2 linked regions of the Homo sapiens genome follow. The protein of the gene in region 1 purifies or fractionates together with the protein of each later gene. This does not show direct contact. Each region holds a gene or a part of one and is shown on either strand. Other genes may lie near its edges.

Region 1 (9,921 bases):
ACGCTCAGCCCGATAGCCCAGAACCACAGGGGCAGGAGCGCCGGGGGTCGGGCCGGTCCCATCCTCCACGCTAAGAAGGCGCAGACTCCAGGCCTCCTGCAACCGGTGGCCTCAGGGATCTCCAGGACCGGACTGGGCTCCCAAACCAGTCAGGCCGGGGTGGGGCGGGGTGCCCCAGGTGGATGGGGGCTGGCACATTCCTCAATCCTGTCCCGGGGCAGGCGCTCCCCTCCCCGCAGGGCACTTCCAGTGTCTCAGGGTCTACACGGGACTTCTGTCTGCATCCTCCCACGGGGCTCCGTGCCCTACCTGGGTGCGGCCTGGGAGGGTGGGAACAAAGTTCTAAGCCTTGGGGAGCCCTGGCCCTGCCTGGCTGGGCCCCTCTCAGCTCCTGGGCTGGCAGGGCTGGAATAGCTGGACGGTCTGAGAGTGCTCACCTCCCTCCGGCCCAGCAAGGAAGTCTCCAGGGAGCTGAGAGGCTGCAGCATCTGTTCACATCCTGTGGCCCTACACCCAGAACACAGGCCCAGGGGTGTTCCCTGATCCCTTCCCAGGCCAGTGCCAGGAGTCAGAGCCCCACCAGAGCCTCCAACCAAGGGAGCTGTTTATTTGACAGGGAAGGAATTTGAGGAGCCGTGTTAGTCCTGGCCCAGGACAGGCAGGTGGAGGTGGTGGCGGGGGGTCTCTGATGGGGGCCTCAAAGACTGCCTCTCCCCTCATAGGCGGACTCCCCGCGGGGCCACGCTTGTGCTGCACCTTCAGGTCTCATCGAAGTCCACGCCACCAGCTGGTTTCTTACTGGGAGGGAAGAGGGGTGTCACTATGGCACTATGGTGTGGAGAAAGGGGTGGGGTCCAGGATTGGACCCTGGGCGCAGGAAGGGGGCTGTGGGAGGGTACCTCTTGAACCCGGGGTTGATGAGCGACTCTCCTGGACACCGCCTCCTGACTCCAGGTCCAGGGCCACCTCTCTGGGGATCTGGGTCTGGGGGAAAACAGGACAGGGGCAGCTCCTGAACCTGGCAGCATCCCAACCACAACCTTCTCCGAATAGATAGGCATTCTCTCTGGAGCGTGAGTCTTGTTTGGGGGGAAACTGAGTTCCAGGTTAAAGAGCACAGCCCTACTTGAGTCACAGGCGGACATGCCTTACCTGGTAAGAAGAGCTGAGGCCCTGCAGGCCGGGGGCTCTTCCTCGGGCTGACAGCTGTCTCTTCTGCAGCTGGGGAGGAAAGCCCATGGGAACCCCACTCAGTGCCAGGAGTGGGGGCAAGAGCAGGGGACCCCAGTGAAGGTATGAGGTGCCCACCCCCAATCCTACCTGCCAGTCGCCGCTCCAGGCTCCACACGCGTTTTGCCAGGCCCAGTGTCAGCGCCCGCAGCCTGGGGGCTGCCTCTGGGCCTGGTACCTTGGAGAGGTCAAAGGCCAGTGCCGAGGGCCCCCCTGAAAGCGTCAGGGATGCTCTGTCCTCCTGCAGAGTCAGAGCCACAGCTTGCTGCTCACAGGCTGCCCTGGGAGAGGAGAGGTGCGGAGAGCTGTGGCAGACCCTCCTCCTCCCCACCCGTCCTTCCTCCCTGCTTGGGTCTCACCTGAACCGGGGGGTGATGTCCTCAGCCGCACTCAGGCCAAAACGGGCTTTCTAGAGAGCACAGGGGCTTGTCACGAGCTGCCTGGAACCCGAGGCCCACTGGGGGCACCCGAAACCTGCCCGACCCCAGAGCCCTAGCCAATGGGAGGACTACAGCTACAGGGCGGGCAGAGGGTGTCAGAGCCTTCTGGGGAATCCCAGATGTCTGTCGCCCCATAGACGATCTGCACTGCAAGGAGGGGTGTGGCGGCTCCCAGACCCGCCCAGTTACCCACGAGGGCCGCCAGGCTGTCCGGCGTGAAGCAGGTGCTCCAAAGCTCCGCGGCGTCGGTCACGCTGGGGGAGAAGGCCTGTCAGGCGGGGCCGCCCGCGGAGCTCCCTGCACCCCTACCTCCCCGCGGACCCCCACTCACTAGAGGTTGAAGCCGCCGCGGTCCCCCTCCCCGCTTTCCTCCCCTTCGCAGTAGCACACGAAGCGGGGCGGCTCGGGGCCCGGCGGCAGCGTGCAGAGCGGCGGCGACAGCGGATCCATGGCGCCGGGCGAGCGGGAACCCGGCGGGGCGGGGCTTGGGCGCCGGGAGGGGCGGGGCTGTGCGGGCTCAGGGCTCCTGCGCGGAAGAACGACTTCCGGAGCCGGGTGCAGGCCAGTCGCGGGCTTAGGGAGCTTGCGCGGGGCGGAGTCTGGTTGGGGGCGGGGTCTGTGTGTGGAGGCGGGGTTAGGGGCGGGGTTATGAGGGTGGGGGGATTCGGGGCGGGGCTAAAGGCACAGGCCGGGCCGCGCGGACCCGGTACCCGCGCGGGCTTCAGGCGACTAGAGGCCGAGTTTAGTGCGCGGGGCGGGCCGGAGCAGGGCGTCCTGGGTCAGGGATCCAGAGGCCCTGCCCCCAGCGCTGGCCTCGCCGGTCGTGGGCTCCACGGCGCGATCCCGGGCTCTGGCCCTCGCGCCCGCGAGCAGCCCCACTCGAACCTCGCCCCCTCCCGCCCCCGCCCCGGCTCCAAGTCCAGCCGAGTCCAGGTTCCCTCCGTGGCTCTGCGGATACATCCTGGAGCCCCGCCCTTCCATCGTCTTCACACACAAACCGGAAGCTTCCTAACTCTAATCGTAAGAAGTTACGGTTGGTCCGGCAAGGTGACTCACGCCTGTAATCCCAGCACTTTGGGAGGCCGAGGCGGGCAGATTGCCTGAGGTCAGGAGTTCGAGACCAGTCTGGCCAACATGGTGAAACCCCGTCTCTACTAAAAATACAAAAAAATTAGCCAGGTGTGGTGGCGCACGCCTGTGAGGCAGGGGAATTGCTTGAACCAGGGAGGTGGAGGTTGCAGTGAGCCGAGATCGCGCCACTGCATTCCAGCCTGGGCAACAGAGCGAGACTCTGTCTCAAACAAACAAAAAAAGAAGTCACAGTACAGAGCGATCTCCAGGGAAGAAGGCTTCTGCGCTCTCTGTCCCGCGCATGGTATTCCTCCAGCTCCTCCTACGTGCCTGTTGTCCTAGGCCTGGATATCGATCAACAGACAAGGTCTCTGACTCCCTGGAGCTTCTAGGATCCAATAGGAGAGACACCACACTCTCAGGCAGGGCCAAGCGCCAGGAGAAACTGCAGCGGGTGCTATGAGGGCAGGAGGAAGAGGATGGCTCCCACCAGGGACAGGGAGATCCCAGGCGGAGGCCTGGCCACATAAATAATGGTTCTGTTCAAGGCTCGGCAAGAAGGCCAGGTTGGCAGCATGGTGCTGTGGGGAGGGCCAGTGGGTCTGTAAGCTACGCTTCCATATCGGAGTGCTCCCACAGCAAGCCTGCCTCACCTCCTCCTGCTTCCCAGTTCACTCCCAGTCCTGGCTCCTGCCCCCTGGGCCTCTGCACATGCTGCTGTTTCTGCCTGGCACATCCTTTCCCCAGACTCACATGCTTCCTTCAGGTCTTTACTCAAAAGTCACTTTAGTGAGACCTTCCCTGGTGTTGTTCTGACATTGCAGCATGCTGCCCAGCTCTCACATCCCTCTCTCCTGTCATTTCCCTATTTTTCACACTTCTCACTGTAGAAAGTACACTTTGGCTTGCTTTATTCTGGCAGCTAGCTCCCTGTTATACCCTCCTGGGTTTAGACTTTTCTGCACTCCCCTCCCCTTGGGCTGGACTTTATTAATGACTTGCTTCTGGCAACTAGAATAGGACAAAATTGCTCTTGAATTGCTGGGTGTGACATGAGGCAGCCCTAAGGGGATGACCATGGCCAGCAAGGGAACCGGGAAGCTGACGCCCCAGCTGAGCCTTCCCATGAGACCACATCATCGGCCGGCAGCTTGACCACAGCCTCCTGAAACTTTGTGTCAAAGGCCCAGAGTCCTGCCTGGCTGACACTGGGAGATAATGCATGCCTGCTGGTTAAGCAGCTGCATTTGGGGTAACCTGTCACTCTGCAGTAAGTGACCACCAATACACTTATTTACCCTGCTTATTGTCCATCACCCCAGGAGGTCCATGAGGGCAGGGATTTCTGTCTGTTTTACCTGCCAGTGTATCCGTCTCTTCAGCGCTTACACAATGGCTGGCACATACAGACACTGAATAAACATTGTGAATGAATGAATGGGGGGTGGTGGCTGTTGGAGGTTTAAGCAGGGGTGGATGGGAAGTGGCACGTCTGACTTATGTGTGTGAAGTCCGTATTCTGTGCTGTGAGGAGAGAGGACGGGGGCTGCAGAGGAGAGGGGTGGACCATGGGCTCGGACTGGAGGTGGAGGGAGGAGGAGACAAAGAACAATCAAGGATGGCCCTGGCATTTGGGAAGAGTGGAAAGGGGAGATTCATCCCCAAGATGACTGGGGTGGGGCAGATTTGGAGAGGACTGGGGGGCCTCTTCTTTGTCATGTGAACTCTGAGATGCTGGCTGTAGCAGGCCCCAGATATCAGGCCCTAATCCCTGGGACCTGTGAATGCTATTGTCTATGGAAGATGCTGGGCACTGCATTCCAGCCTGGGCAACAGAGTGAGATCCTGTCTCCCCTTCCCCCCAAAAAAAGGAAAGAAAAGAAAGGAGTGTTTGCAGATATTCCCTTGAGATGGGGTGATTATCCTGGATTGCCCAGGGAGGCCCTCAGTGCCATCTCAAGGGCCTTTTAAAAGTGAGGCAGAGGAAGCTTTGAGACAGAAAAGAAGGCAGCATGGCATGGAGGGAGGAACTGGAGCGATGCAGCCCACAAGCCAAGGATTACAGGCTGCTATCAGAAGCCAGTGTTGTGACCAAGCGAGTTATACAGAAACGCCACACTTTGAGACAAATTAAAGAGTCCGTTATTAGCCGCGACTGAGAGGCAGCTAACGCTCAAAATTCTCTCGGCCCCGAGGAAGGGGCTAGTTTTGTTTTTATACCGTGGTCTAAATAGGGGAGGGGGGATTTTAGCTGAAGCAATTTTTACGGAAGCAGAACTGGCAAAAAGTTAAAAAAATTAATTGGTTACAAATGCAGTTACAAAAAATAAACAGTTCCAGGTGCAGAGGCTTAAACTATCACAAAGAGATAAATGCAGGGGTTTTGGGTGCCATCCACCACGCGTGTCCCCAGGAGCTGCTGGTGCAGCTTGCCTCAATGTCTTATCAGTAGGTGCATTCCTGGACGTGCTTTGAGTCAGTTTACACTAGCTATGCCTTCAGGGAGGAAGGTGAAAGGGGGCCGCAGGTGAAGAAACTAAAATGGAGTGTGTCCGGCTCTCTCTCTGCCAGGAGAGGGTCACTCAGGTGGAAACAAGGTAGGGTATCCCACCAGAAGAGGCCAGGCCCAGTGGCTCATGCCTGCAATCCCAGTGCTTTGGGAGTTCAGAGTGGGAGGACTGCTTGAGGCCAGGAGTTCAAGGCCAGCCTGAGCAAGACAGCAAGACCCATCTCTAAAAAGAAAACATTAGCCAGGCATAGCGATGCATGCCTGTAGTCCCAGCTACTTAGGAGGCTGAGGCAGGAGGACTGCTTGAGCCCAGGAGTTCAAGGCTTCAGTGATCTGATCGCGCCATAGTACTCTGGCCTGGACATCAGAGCAAGACTCTGTCTCAACAACAACAAAAAAAGAAGACAAAGAAGCTAGAAGAGGCAAGGAAGGTTTCTCCCCTAGAGCCCTCGGAGGGAGCACAGCCCGGCTGATACCTCGACCCTATTAAACTGATTTTGAACTCTGGCTTCAAGCTACAAGTTTGTGATAATTTGTGGCAGCTGTAGGAACTGACACAAGACCAGAAACAAAGATTAGTTCCAAAACATGACGAGAAAACTGCAAAACCTTCATTTAACTAGCCTCAGGCTGGGTCCGTGTGGACCTCAGGTGTTTATTTTACACTTTGGCTCACACCCTGGTGTCATGTTCTGTTTCGTGGCTCACATCGGGCCAGCTTCATCTACTGGCAGCAGCTTTTCCACTGGCTTCCACCACGTCCTTCTCTGAGATACTTTTTTATACTTTTTTTTTTTTTTTTTTTTTGAGACGGAGTTTCGCTCTGTCGCCCAGGCTGGAGTGCAGTGGTGCGATCTCGGCTCACCGCAACCTCTGCCTTCCAGGTTCAAGCGATTCTCCTGCCTCAGCCTCCCGAGTAGCTGGGACTACAGATGCCCACCACCACACCTGGCTAATTTTTGTATTTTTTAGTAGAGACAGGGTTTCTCCATGTTGGTCAGGCTGGTCTCGAACTCCCGACCTCCTACCTCAGGTGATCCGCCTGCCTCGGCCTCTCAAAGCTCTGAGATTACAGGCATGAGCCACTGCACCCAGCCATGGGAGCAATTTTCTTTAATGTAGGATACATTAATACAGTGTATGAGATATAAGGTTAGTGGAGCTTTGCAAGCAGAAGGAGAGGGATTACAAAGTCCCCACGCACACACTTGAAGTCGGTGATGGAGGCAGAACAGGGGAGGGAAAGGGCTGACCTTTCCCAAGGCATAGAGCACCTGGAAGCTGGGCCAAAAAGAGGAGCAAAAGGTCCGGAGAACGAGCTCTAGGGGAGTGGGGGCCAGTCAAGTTTTGGGGTAGCAGAGGTCAACAACCAAGGGAGGTATTTGAGCAAGACTTCAGAGACGGGAGTGAGTGCACTGAGTGGCACTGGGAGAAGGGCAGTCCAGGCAGGGGTGACCTGGGCAAAGGCCCTGAGACACGTGAGGGGCTGGCAGCAGGACGGAGGGAGGGGAGTGGATGGTGGGTCAAAGGAAAGCCTAAAAGAGAAGACCTTGTTGGCCACCATCAAGACTTAGGCCTGAGGCCGGGCATGGCGGTTCACGGCTGTAATCCCAGCACTTTGGGAGGCCGAGGTGGGTGGATCACCTGAGGTCAGAAGTTCAAGACCAACCTGGTCAACATGGTGAAACCCCGTCTCTACTAAATATACAAAAATTAGCTGGGCGTGGTGGCGGGCACCTATAATCCCAGCTACTCAGGAGGCTGAGGCAGGAGAATCGCTTGAACCCGGGAGGCAGAGGTTGCAGTGAGCCAAGATCGCGCCACTGCACTCCAGCCTGAGCAACAAGAGCGAAACTTCGTTCCAAAAAAAAAGACTTAGGCCTTTACTCTCAGTGCAATGGGACCCACTGTGGGGTGCTGAGCAGGGGGGCCTGATCTGACACATCTTGTGAATCCATCCCCTGGGCTTCTAGGTGGAGAAAGGGCTGAGCGTGGGAGGTGAGGGACTCGATGCGTCTGCAAGGGATTGGGGGCTGACCACAGCTGGACCCACAGCCACCCCCAGAGGCTGCCCCACCCTGGAAGGAAGGAAAGGGCATCCCTGAGGCTGTGGAGGGCAACCTGCATTTCCCGGCTCGGAATCTTCCTGGGAATGCAGGGGGGATGCAGAGCCACTGTGCTCCGCCGAGTGGTGTTTTTTTGTTTTGTTTTGTTTTTTTTCTGAGGCAGAGTCTCGCTCTGTGGCCCAGGCTGGAGTGCAGTGGCACAATCTTGGCTCACTGCAAGCTCCGTCTCCCAGGTTCACGCCATTCTCCTGCCTCAGCCTCCCGAGTAGCTGGGACTACAGGCGCCCGCCACCACACCCGGCTGATTTTTTGTATTTTTAGTAGAGACGGGGTTTCACCGTGTCAGCCAGGATGGTCTCGATATCCTGACCTCATGATCCGCCCGCCTCAGCTTCCCAAAGTGCTGGGCCCGGCCCGAGTGGTGTTTTTTAATAACAAATTTTCTGGGCTGGGCCCAGTGGCTCACGCCCGTAATCCCAGCACTTTGGGAGGCCAAGGTGGGTGGATCGCTTGAGGTCAGGAGTTTGAGACCAGCCTGGCCAACATGGCAAAACCTGTCTCTACTAAAAATACAAAAATTAGCAGGGCGTGGTGGCGATCACCTGTAATCCCAGCTACTTGGGAGGCTGAGGCAGAAGAATCACTTGAACCTGGCAGGTGGAGCTTGCAGTGAGCCGAGATCGCACCACTGCACTCCAGCTTGGGCGACAGAGCGAGACTCCATCTCAAAAAAACAAACAAACAAAACTCTGACCAACTGAGAAGGAGAAATCAGAGCATACTGCACCCCGTAGACCCATCACCCAGATTAAACACTATCCAAATATTCACAGATTTGCAACCAGTATTTTTATTATTATTTTGCTGAACTAGGTACATTACAGCTAGTAGGCTATTTTCCTTCAAATTCTTCGAGACTTGTCTGTAAAAGACAACACTGTCCTACATAGACTCCAGGCAGGGCAGAGTTTTATGCGGCTCCTCCTGTCCTCCTCGCCCTCCACTCTCCGTGGACAGGCCCTGGGTCAGAGTTGGGAGCGCTTCGTTGGTCTCCGGAACAGCCAGGCCTCTGGGGCGGGTCCTGGAGCCAGGAGTCAGGGGCTGGGGAGCTGGGGGACCCGGAGGGGCGCCTGGGGATGGAAGCCGCCGACACTGACTGGGGCAGCCGCTTGGGAGGACCCGGAAGGCCACGTCGCGCGGCGGTGTCCGCTGAAGCCTGGGGCGCGCGCCGCGTGGTGTCCGTGTCCCGCCCTCCCGGCGCCCCCAGTCTGGGGGTCTGGGTCCGTGCGGAGGTAGAAAAGTCCCAGAGCTGGGGCTGGGGCCCGTCCTGAGGAACCTCCCTGCCACGGAGCCGAGGCTCGGTCCCTCCTGGGCTAACGCCTACCCAGAGGGGCAACAGGGGGTGACCCGGCCCCTCCCCCAGGGCGCCCATGTACCTGGCCGCCCCCCCGCCACCCCTCCCTGCCCCCAAGAAACGCACAGCGCCACAGGCATTCAGGGTGTTTATTGCGCTTGGGGCCAGGGTGTGGAGGGAGGGGGCTCTTTGGGCAGGGCTGGGCGCACGGAGCAGCTGACCCCTGCGGGCACTCAGGGGCTGGACCCCTCACTGCAAAACAAGGAGCAGGTGGGCGGCGTCCCCTGCCTCCGCCCCCTCCCGACGCGCAGCCCCGCGGTTCCCCAGGCTGCTGCGGCTCGGATCCGCCCGGGTGCCCCATCACCCCCGCTGTCGTCCCTAGCTGCCCCGAAGGTAGAGGGCCCCGCGGTGCAGCCCACCGAGCTGGGAGGGCCCATGGTCCGCGGCTCCGCATGGCCATGGTCTACTCACCCGGGAGAGCGCGCCCGCACACTGGTCTGCAGAGAGATCGAGCCTGAGGCGCCACCCCGCGCCCCCTTCCCTGGGACGGAGGCCCCCGACCTGCCCCAAGGCGATCTCCTCCTGGGAACACCGGCCTGGGCAACGTCTCGCCCTCCCCCGACCCAGACAGGCTGGGTCTGCCCCGGGCACTTCTGTCCCGAATCTGAGATCAGTGGAGTGACCAGGGCCTGGCCCTTCCAGCAGGGGTGTGACCCGGGGCCTGGCCCTCCCAGCAGGGCTGCCGGCACCGCTCACCCGACTTCGGCAGCAGGACGCCCTGGCTGGGGCTCAGGCCCACTTGGGGCGCCAGTAGCTGCATCTTCTGGGCGCCTTCGGGAAACAGCTCGGGCGCTCGAGCTGAAGGTGGGGAGGGCGGGTAAGCTAAAGGGAAGGGGCTGGAGGGGCGAAGAGAGGGAGAGAGGGGCAGGGAGGGGCCGGGACCCGCGGCCACAGACACCAGGAGCCAGCGGTTCCACCTTCCGCGTGCAGAAAGGGCTGGTGCAGGCACAGGGGTGACATCCCAGACCCGAAGCGGGGGTGTCTGGGTCTCCGCCCCGCAGCCCGCCCACCGTAGAGCTGCAGCCACTGGTTCCGCAGGCCCCCTTTCCGCATCTCCAAGTACAGCAAGGCAAAGTGCTGGTAGTCGGAGAAGGCCACTCGGATGTCACTCAGGGCCATGGCTGGAGGAGCGAGAGCCGCTGACCCCAGGCCCAGGGCACCTCCCCCCCGAGCGTGGCACCCCTCACGCCC
Region 2 (10,596 bases), on another chromosome or scaffold:
ATTCTGGCTGGGCACAGTGACTCATGCCTATAATCCCAGCACTTTGGGAGGCCGAGGCAGGCAGATCACTTGAGGTCAGGAGTTCGAGACCAGCCTGGCCCATATGGCACAACCCCGTCTCTACTAAAAATACAAAAATCAGCTGGGCATGGTGACATGCACCTGTAATCCCAGCTACTCAGGAGACTGAGGCAGGAGAATCACTTGAACCTGGGAGGCAGAGGTTGCAGTGAGCTGAGATTGCACCATTGCACTCCAGCCTGGGTGACAGAGTGAGGCTCCATCTCAAAAAAAAAAAAAAAAAAAAAAAAAAAAAAAGAGAGAGAGAAACTGGTAATTCTTTCACTCAGACAAAACATAAGACAGGATTTTCAAAATATCAGGTATTTTTGAATACTAAAATAGTGGTTACTTCCTTTTAAGAAAAAAAGAAAGTTTGTTATAAATGTAAATTTCAAACAATTCTTATATAAGTTAGATATTCAAAATGTTCAAATTGCACAGTGAACACACAATTAGATACACAAAATTTCTTGAACTGATGGCAATAAATGCCTAAAACCCTGACTCCCAGAGGTATGCATCTGGGAGCAAGTCTTTGTCACGGAGGAGCAACCTTACATTAAGAAACAACAGAATTCACAACTTTTTTAGTTGAATTTATGTTCATTCTTTTCCTTTCTTCTAAGTTTAGGAGGTCATTTTTGGCAACAATCAGATGTTTGTATCATCAAGAAAAGGATTACAAACTCCTTCTCAATTTTTAGGTCATCCAAGCAAAATTAGCTTTAAAAAAGTATTCTGTCTGCCATGTTTCCCATTGTCTGCAGATTTTTTTTGCCAGCAGATGAATCTACAAGACATTGTCACTCTGAAATCAGTCTGCAGAAGCACATCCTGAATACTGGAAGACTCCCATGACACCTTGGCCAAATGAACTTGTGATCTCTCAGCTGCATCCATCCACTGAAAGTTTTACCTCATCTAAATATCCAAAATATCTCTCAAGCCAAGCCATGAATAAACTCCTCCTTGTCAAGCCGTTCTGAGAATATTCTTTTCTTTCTCATAAACAAATAAATAAATGAATAAATAAGGAGACAGATATTTAGACTGCAATGTAGTGCTTTAAGACATTCTCTGGGGAACCAGCACACTTTTTGCATTGCTGGTAATCTTTCAGGCTGCTTCCATTACTTGTGAACATTTGTTGAAAAGGTAGTACCTGTAGTTCAAGATGCTGGCTCTGATAAAGTTGTTTACTTTCAGGGTGGTAAGCAAAAATCTTTCAGGATTATTATGAGTCTTTGATGTTGATATATGCCAAACCAACTGTAGAAGACATGAATCAAGAGGACTTAAAGCTCTTTCTTCATAGAAAGGGTAAAACCTGATGTACTGCCAGTCATGGCAAGTACTCCATCCAGGCTGATATGGTTTGGCTGTGTCCCCACCCAAATCTCATCTTGTTTTTTTGTTTGTTTGTTTGTTTGTTTTTTGAGACAGAGTTTCACACTTGTTGCCCAGGCTGAAGTGCAATGGTGTGATCTTGGCTTACCGCAACCTCTGCCTTCCGGGTTCAAGCCATTCTCCTGCCTCAGCCTCCCAAGTAGCTGGAATTACAGGTATGCGCCACCATGCACAGCTAATTTTGTATTCTTAGTAGAGACGGGGTTTCTCCATGTTGGTCAGCCTGGTCTGGAACTCCCAACCTCAGGTGATCCGCCCATCTCAGCCTCCCAAAGTGCTGGGAGGCACCCGGCCTAAATCTCATCTTGAATTGTAGATCCCATAATTCCCACATGTTGTAAGACAAACATGGTGGGAGGTAATCGAATCATGGGGGTGGGTCTTTCCTGTGCTGTTCTCATGAAAGTGAATAAGTCTCATGAGATCTAAAGGTTTTATAAAGGGGAGCTCCCCTGCACATGCTCTCTTGCCTGCCACCATGTAAGACGTAACTTTGTTCCTCCTTCTCTTTCTGCCATGATTATGAGGCCTCCCCAGCCATGTGGAACTGTGAATCATTTAAACCTCTTTCCTTTATAAACTACCCAGCCTCGGGTATGTCTTTATTAGCAGTGTAAGAACAGACTAATACAGTAAATTGGTACCGGTAGACTGGAGTGCTGCTATAAAGGTACCCGAAAATGTGAAAGAAACTTCGGAACTGGGTAACAGGCAGAGACTGGAACAGTTTGGAGGGCTCAAAAGAAGACAGGAAAATGTGGGAAAGTTTGGAACTTCCTAGAGACTTGAGGGCTCAGAAGACAGGAAGATGTGAAAAAGTTTGGAATTTCCTAGAGAATTGTTGAATGGCTTGGAACAAAATGCTAATACAGACAACGAAGTCCAGGCTTAGGTGGTCTCAGATGGACATGAGGAACTTGTTGGGAACTAAAGGTCACTCTTGCTATGCAAAGAGACTGGGGGCATTTTGCCCCTTCCCCAGAGATCTGTGGAACTTTCAACTTGAGAGAAATGACTTAGGGTATCTAGCAGAAGAAATTTCTAAGCAGCAAAGCATTCAACAGGAAGCAGACCATAAAAGTTTGGAAAATTTGCAGCCTGACGATGCAATAAAAAAGAAAAGCCCATATTTGGGGGAAAAATTCAAGCCTGCTGCATAAATTTGCATAAGTAATAAGGAGCCAAATGTTAATCACCAAGACAATGGGGGAAATGTCTCCGAGGCATGTCAGAGATGTTCACAGGAGCCCCTCCCATTATAGGCTCCAGAGGCCTAGGCGGTAAAAACAGTTTCCTGGGCCAGGTCCAGGCCCCCATTGCAGCGTGCAGCCTAGGGACTTGGTTCCCTGCATCCCAGTCACTCCAGCAGTCGCTAAAACAGGCAAAGGTACAGATCGGGCCTTGCTTCAGAGGGTACAAGTCCCAAGTCTTGGCAGCTTCCATATGGTGTTGAGCCTGCGAGTGCACAGAAGCCAAGAATTGAGGTTTGGGAACCTCTGCCTAGATTTCAGATGATGTATAGAAATGTCTGCGCTGGGTGCGGTGGCTCACGCCTGTAATCCCAGCACTTTGGGGGGCTGAGGCGGGCGGATCACGAGGTCAGGAGATTGAGACCATCTTGGCTAACATGGTGAAACCCCGTCTCTACTAAAAATACAAAAAATTAGCTGGGCATGGTGGCGGACGCCTATAGTCCCAGCTACCTGGGAGGCTGAGGCAGGAGAATGGCATGAACCCAGGAGGCGGAGCTTGCAGTGAGTGGAGATGGAGATCACGCCATTGCACTCCAACCTGGGTGACACAGCGAGACTCCGTCTCAAAAAAAAAAAAAAAGAAAGAAATGTTTGGATGTCCAGGCAGAAGTTTGCTGCAGGGGCAGGGCCCTCATGAAGAACCTCTGCTAGGGCAGTATAGAAGGGAAATGTGGGGTTGGAGCCCCTATACAGAGTCCCCACTGGGGCACTGCCTAGTGAAGCTATAAGATTAGGGCCACTTTCCTGCAGACCCCAGAATGGTAGATCCACCGACAGCTTGCACTGTGCCCCTGGGAAAGCCACAGACACTCAATGCCAGCCCATGAAAGCAGCCAGGAAGGGAGCTGTACCCTGCAAAGCCACAGGGGTGGAGCTGCTCAAGGTTGTGGGAGTCCGCCTCTTGCATTAGCATCACCTGGATGTGAGATATGGAGTCAAAGGAGATCATTTTGGAACTTTAAGGTTTCATGACTGCCCTATTGGATTTCGAACTTGCATGGCGCCTGTAGCCTCTTTGTTTTGGCCAATTTCTCCCATTTGAAATGGGTATGTTTACCCAATGCCTGTACCCTCATTGTATCTGGGAAGTAACTAACTTGTTTATGATTTTACAAGCTCATAGGTAGAAGGAACTTGCCTTGTCTCAGATGAGACTTTGGACTGTGGACTTGTGAGTTAATGCTGAAATGAGTTAAGACTCTGGGGGACTCTTGGGAAGGAATGATTGGTTTTGAAATGTGAGGACATGAGATTTGGGAGGGGCTGGGCGGAATGATATGGTTTGGCTGTGTCTCCACCCAAATCTCATCTTCAATTGTAGTTCTCATAATTCCCAAGTGTTATGAGAGGGACCCAGCGGGAGGTAACTGAATCCTGAATGAGGGGTCTTTCCTGTGTTGTTCTCATGATAGTGAATAAGTCTCATGAGATCTAATGATTTTATAAAGGGGAGTTCCCCTGCACATGTTCTTTTGCCTGCCACCATGTAAGATGTGACTTTGCTCCTCTTTTGCTTTCCACCATGATTGTGAGGCCTCCCCAGCCATATGGAACTGTGAGTCAATTAAATCTTTTTCCTTTATAAATTACCCAGCCTTGGGTATGTCTTTATTAGCAGTGTGAGAACAGATTAATATACATGCCAACTGTACCAAGCCCCGTCTTTTAGCATGTCAAAAATTTCAAAAGCCTTTCAGCCTTCTAAAATGTACCTCACTAATTTGGAATTTATTATGTATCAATATGTGTGAAACAGATAAAAACTAGAAAATCGCTGCACAAAATAATGCTAGTTGTTACATGCAAATGTTTAGTGAATGGGAAATGGCATTAATCCCAATTTGGCAATGATCTGCTTCAAAACATTAGAAGAGTCTGCACTTCTGTAACATATAATATCATCCGATTGAGCTTGGGCCACAGGAAAGAACACTTACAATAAATAACAAAATTGTAGTAGCTAGTTCCAACCTTCTTACTGAACCTATTTTAAATTACCATTTTAAGAAATTCAGCATATTGAAACTTATATAAATTGGCAGCTAATTAGAAAAAGTATGTTTATTTTAAATATAAATTACTAAGGGTAGTTTCTCTGCATTATTCCCTACACGATAATATAAATTTATAATGACTCCATTTGTTTCTACAAATGTTTATCTAATTAATGAAATCTCTTTAATTATTCCAAATTTAAAAGGTTGATTTAAAAGAATTTCCTAAACTCAGTTGAGCACTAAAACAAATTCTCAATACATTTCTGTTAACTTAATGTAGCAAACATTTCCTTCCCTCTCCTTCAGAAATGATAGATCTCATATATGACTGAAAACCACTGGTTAAAAAAACAAATTCAGTATCTATTAAACTTAGGTAAAATATACAAATAATTAGTGCCAGACTTTAATAAATAAACCACCTGCCTTGATCTGAATTGGTGCAGGAACTGAGCAGAATAAGTAGCAGATACTCTTGTTTGCAAAGCTTAGGCTTCAAGTTATTTCTATTTTAATATTTTTAAATCTGACAATATAAAGTATCCTTAATACTTACTATGCATTTTTCAATTTCAAATATACTCTAGTAAAGTAGAAAATAAGTCATAATTATTCTATATTCAAAGATATATTTTGATTGATTTTATTTCTTAAAATCAATATTTCACAAAACTTTTTTCAATAAGACCTGTCACGATGGCCTAAAACTTCTGATCTCACCTTTTTCAAGATTATTCTTTTGTATAATTAACTCTGTAATACTTTAAAATTTTTCAAGCATTAAAAACTAAACACATTTTCCAATATTTATTTTTCATGATTCATTAATATATTTAATGACTTTAGCTTTGAAGTATTCTTCTAATTTGGAAACCAAGTACTTTTCAAGCTTTTGCTTCTGAGGTGTTCTGGGAATAATATAGTAGTCACTTAAATTTAAATATAATTCCTCAATAAATGCTCTGACATTTTACTATGTAACATTTTGGAAAGTTTTACTTACTGAGACATCTTTCAGGTTTTTCTCAAAGAAGAAATAACAAGACTCTTTAGAAAAATTAAACGTGTATACATCAGCTGGTCCTGCTCCTGACAACAATGCTTTTCTCAGTTCACCAACATATTTCCCTTTTTCCATTGCCATGTCATCAGCTTCTTGGGAAATCTCTGATTCAGAAACTATGGGAAATATTAACAAAAGTTTTAAAATGAAAAGTAAATGACTACACATGAGAAAATATTAGTTTATCTGTTAGTACTAATTTATCACATGTAACAGAAATTCAAACAAGTAAAATCAATCCCTATACTACACATTTTTAAATCAAATTATTCCTTTTTACTGAACTAGCAATTTTTGAGAAATGCATTAATTTAGACTCACATCTCGTAAAATACATTAAACCCTTGACATTCTTTCTCTGTCTTCAGATGAAACGCATTGTAAATTATTACAGAAACTCCCACTTTGTGTAACTGCTCTTAGGTCAAAGCCAGATAATTTCCTACAATGAATAATAAGTTCAGTATTTTATAACATCTTTCTTCCTTGCATCAAAGATTCAATAGCCTATACTGTGTTTCTCACTCATATGGGCAGAGTAAAACAAAAGCAAAAGTGGAGCTCACTATTCTCATATCATGTGCCAACAACAGAAAATATGGATGAAAGGAGATGATAAGGAAATAATAGGAAGGAAACTAAAATGTACGAGCATCTCCTCTGCAACACATACTATACTAGAGACCGCTTCCAATTCTCTTATCTAGGTATTTTTAAAGCTGATGTTTTACTATCATTGAGATTTTTGTTTCAATAATTATATTTTCAATTCTAGATATTATCTTTGTTCCTTTGTCATTATATCCTGTTCTTATCCTACCCTTCTTTTAAATATTTAAATAAACGTATTTTAAGATCTCTTTCATTTCTGTATTTATGTGTGGCTCCTGGGGTATAAATTATGTTTCTTCTATCTGTGGAAAAATTCTTGTTTTACTTGTTTTCCTTTCATGCTTTGTAACATTTGAGTACAGCTCACCTCTAGCCAAAGTGGCAAGTGCTCTGGGAAGAAGTGGTCTTAAATGAAGGTTGCCTTTCTGGGGGTCATTACAAGTTTTATCAGTTTGGGACTAGTTTTGAAAGTTAATTTCTCACCTCGATTTTTACATTTGAGGCAAAGTGTTCCATTTTAAACCTCCCATCCACACATAACACAGGTTTAGGGTTCTGATTTTTCTTGAGACTTTTATTCACTCATAGTCCTTAGGGATTGTTCTGTTTTTATGCTGCATCCTCTGGACAGAGAGTAGTAGTTTTTTTAAAAGATTATTTTATTAACAGCATATATTTTCCAGGTTCCTTTCTTTATGCTGAGAGCTCAACTCCAATTCCCTAAGAGGTCTGAAGCCTCAACATTCTACCTCACTCAAACATTATACTCACTGTCATCTAGAAGTATATCTAGTTCAGATATTCCATGAATCTACAAGTAAGCTTTAATTCTCATCAATTACTTTGGTTTTGAAATACCTCTTCAAACATGGTGTCTGAGGTTTTCCCTTTCTTACACTCAAAAGTGGCAATGGGTCTGCATACTTGTTTGTTTTTAAAATTACAAGATTCAATCTCGTTATTTGTTGGAATGTGTGTGTGGTTGGATGGTTTCCTGTGTTAATTTAGGCTATCACAGTAATGATAAAAGTCTCATATGGTTGTATAATTTCATACTTATGCATTACACTTATCTATTTTAATTCCTTATAAAACTGAAAAACAGATATTATTTTCATTTTGCAAAAGAGAAAACTGAGGCTCACAGAGATCAAGTAATGGTCTAGGGTGATGAAGTAAGTAACTAGTGAAGCTGGGATTAATACTCATATCTCTCTGCATGTTTTATTTTGAGGTGAAGCAGAGACATGAAACATTGGATAAATTATTTCCATCCATAATTTTGAAAAACAACATTAGTATAAAATATTACAGAATATAAGGAAATCATGATTAAAGAATCCCTAAAATGGAACACACATTTTCATACCTTTGGTCTCTATGCTATCAAGTGTCTGGAAGACCCATGACAGTTAATGAAAAAGGGAGTCTTGCAAGGTACCAATATTTTTATATGATCAATTTTTGATAACAAGTTTTGATAATAAAATATGATTCTCATACGTCACACAACCTTTGGAAGGAGGTAAGAATAAAAATAGCTTATATTCATATATTAACAGCTTCTAAAACACTTTCACATTTTCTCTATTGGAAGTGGACACATTTAATATGATCATCACTATCAAACCTATTGATCTTTCAAATGCCCTAGTAGCTCTTCTAAAAAAAAAAAAAGAAGAAGATAAATGCTTCCTATTTAAGGAATAATTTCATATTTTGTGTTTGCATTATGTTAAAAAGTAACTATCTAACTTTAACTCACCAATACCTAGGAAGAACAGTTATTTCACAGAGAAATAGGAAATAAATTTGTAGATGCCATCTTTAATGCGGCCATAGAAAAACTTGAAGAAAACACAAAAGAAAACAGAGAACATCTATTTAAAAAGCATCTAGTTAAAAGTATTCTAAATTTCATTAAAATGAAAAGATACCTGTCTGAAAATATGTAATCATTCATTCATTCCAAAAATGCTAGCCTGTGGAGCTCAAATTCAAGTGCTAATATCTTAGACAACATTTTAGATATCTGTCAGTTATCATCCTAGATATCCTCTTATTTTCCTCTCCTAATAAATACTGTGCTGATTATTACGGAATATTTAATTTTTGAAGGAGAAAAAAACGTATGAAAGGAAATTAATTATGTAAAACAGCTATTTGTTCAAAAATGTACTTGAAAAATTCCTATAAAAGTAAACATGGAAATCTGACTGCCTACATAGGGCTTCAATCCTAAAAAACCAACCTGGTCACCAGTTTTGAATTCTGTGCCAAGAACATCTGGAAAAAGTATAGCTGTAAGCACGCGATGCTCTAAAACTTCAGTGACCAAGAATAAAGGCAATGGAAATAATAAAATTCAGCAAGAATGCAACTGAACCACATAATAAGGCATAAAACATGAGCAGCCCAACATGACCAAAAAACAAGGAACTGGTAGAAGTCAGACTGAGACTCACTTTAACACTGAAAAGCATCACTTTTGCAGTGTTTATAGGTAGATGAAGATGTAAGTGAGGAAAGAAGATTTTTTTCCTTCAGATACCTATATATAACTAGCCAAAAGCCTGCACACATCCTAAGCTTGTACTGGAGCTCAGAAGACATACAGTCTTATCATACCATTAGGATTCTAGTTGGTATTGCATCATAAACCCATTTCACTGCTTGATTTATTAAAATCCTCTTTCCACTGAGTTCTGTCACTATTTCCATATAAGTCAAAAAATATTTACACTCAAGATAATTATAAGTGGATCTAATTAGTGGATAATAGAACAATTAGTAAAGTTTAATTTACTCTTTAATAAACTTCAAACTACTCCAGAGATGGGTGATATAAGTTTCCTACTGCCAATAGGAATTCTTATGAAAGTCAGAGTCATCGATCATTAACCCACTTTGTGACTTACCCCTGTGATATAACCGCCTGTAATACTGATGTGATGATAGACCACATGATAATTAGATAATTGGACCTCAAAAACATTCATTAGATAAAACATTGCTAATGGAAATCAGTGAGTTTAGTGTAGGGGAGATTAAAAGAAAACTTACATCCTTTTAATTTCACTCAAATAAAAAGAGAAAAAAAATTGTCCAAATTGAAGGTTGCAGTAATCAAAATGTTGAACAAAAAAAAACAGGATGAGGTATCGGAAGGAAATCCGTTTCCATGTTTCAATTATTTAATTGTTTCAATGTCCTTAGTGATGTTATTGTCTACATGTAAAGTACCAGATCACATTTATGGAATAAGCCTTAACTAAACATGGGCACAGTGTTATATTATTTGATTTCCTATTTTGTCCCTGATATGTAAACAAGAAAACAGAAATGAATGAAGGCATAAAACACATGAGAGATTTAAACACTATTAGATATTTTTGAAAATAAAATGACCACATAGTGCACTATAAAATTTTCTGTTTTAAAGCTTGTTTGGTACAGGAAACCAAAATGGTAACAATCCACCTGAGAATACATAAGTTTGATATCACATTTTTGTCACATTAAATTCCACTAGCTAAAAAATAAATGGTAGAATATACTGCAGTTATGACAAATGTCAACAATAAGTAAATATAAAACTGGAGTTTTCATTCAAAAACATGCTAACTCTAAAATGAACAATTTATTTTCTTTTTTCGCAGACCAGTTTTATATATTTGAGACATCCTTTCATTCTTTCAATCAAAAAAGTATTCATTGAGAATGTATTTCGTAGGTACCGGTCTAGATAATTGCAAAGAGTGTTGACAAACCAAATGTGTCTCTTACCCTCAGTATAAATCAGTACCATCTAGTGAAATGATAATTCATGTTAATATTATTAAGAATGATGCCAGCACAATTGTATGATATAAACGAAATGTTCCATAAATGTAAGGTTCTTACATTTCTGGTTAAATTAAGAGATAAGAGTTAATGGAGTGTTCTTTTTTCCCCCAATACTTAATGATTAAAAAATTTCAAATAACATATTATCACTGATTTTTATCTTGGTGAATGAGGCTTATGGACTAGATTAGAATTCAGCCTCTTCCTTTGATAATTAAGGCTCCTGAAACACCTTAAGGTCATCTGTCTGACAACAACTAAGTATACAGAATACGCCATTTGCCAATTAGAAATACCTAAAGTTATAAATACAGTATTCCTTACATACAAGCAACCACTTCCCCTAGGACTTGCT

The links.
Region 2: the proteins of PAXX (region 1) and XRCC4 purify together in Homo sapiens (affinity purification with western blotting; 2 studies listed by BioGRID and IntAct, with this or other methods). This does not show direct contact.

The regions. Positions count from the first base shown.
Region 1 is NC_000009.12:136,984,643-136,994,563, reverse strand, and holds PAXX (protein PAXX), read right to left. Parts: upstream 2,143-9,921; 5' UTR 2,121-2,142; coding exon 2,002-2,120; intron 1,925-2,001; coding exon 1,864-1,924; exon of another isoform or gene 1,860-1,863; intron 1,640-1,859; coding exon 1,590-1,639; intron 1,512-1,589; coding exon 1,321-1,511; intron 1,222-1,320; coding exon 1,153-1,221; intron 985-1,152; coding exon 900-984; intron 799-899; coding exon 759-798; coding exon of another isoform or gene 698-758; 3' UTR 588-697; downstream 1-587. Other genes in the region: LCNL1 (lipocalin-like 1 protein), read right to left, coding at 9,553-9,851. UniProt on the Homo sapiens protein: Non-essential DNA repair protein involved in DNA non-homologous end joining (NHEJ); participates in double-strand break (DSB) repair and V(D)J recombination.
Region 2 is NC_000005.10:83,106,331-83,116,926, reverse strand, and holds part of XRCC4 (DNA repair protein XRCC4), read right to left. Parts: intron 5,900-10,596; coding exon 5,724-5,899; intron 1-5,723.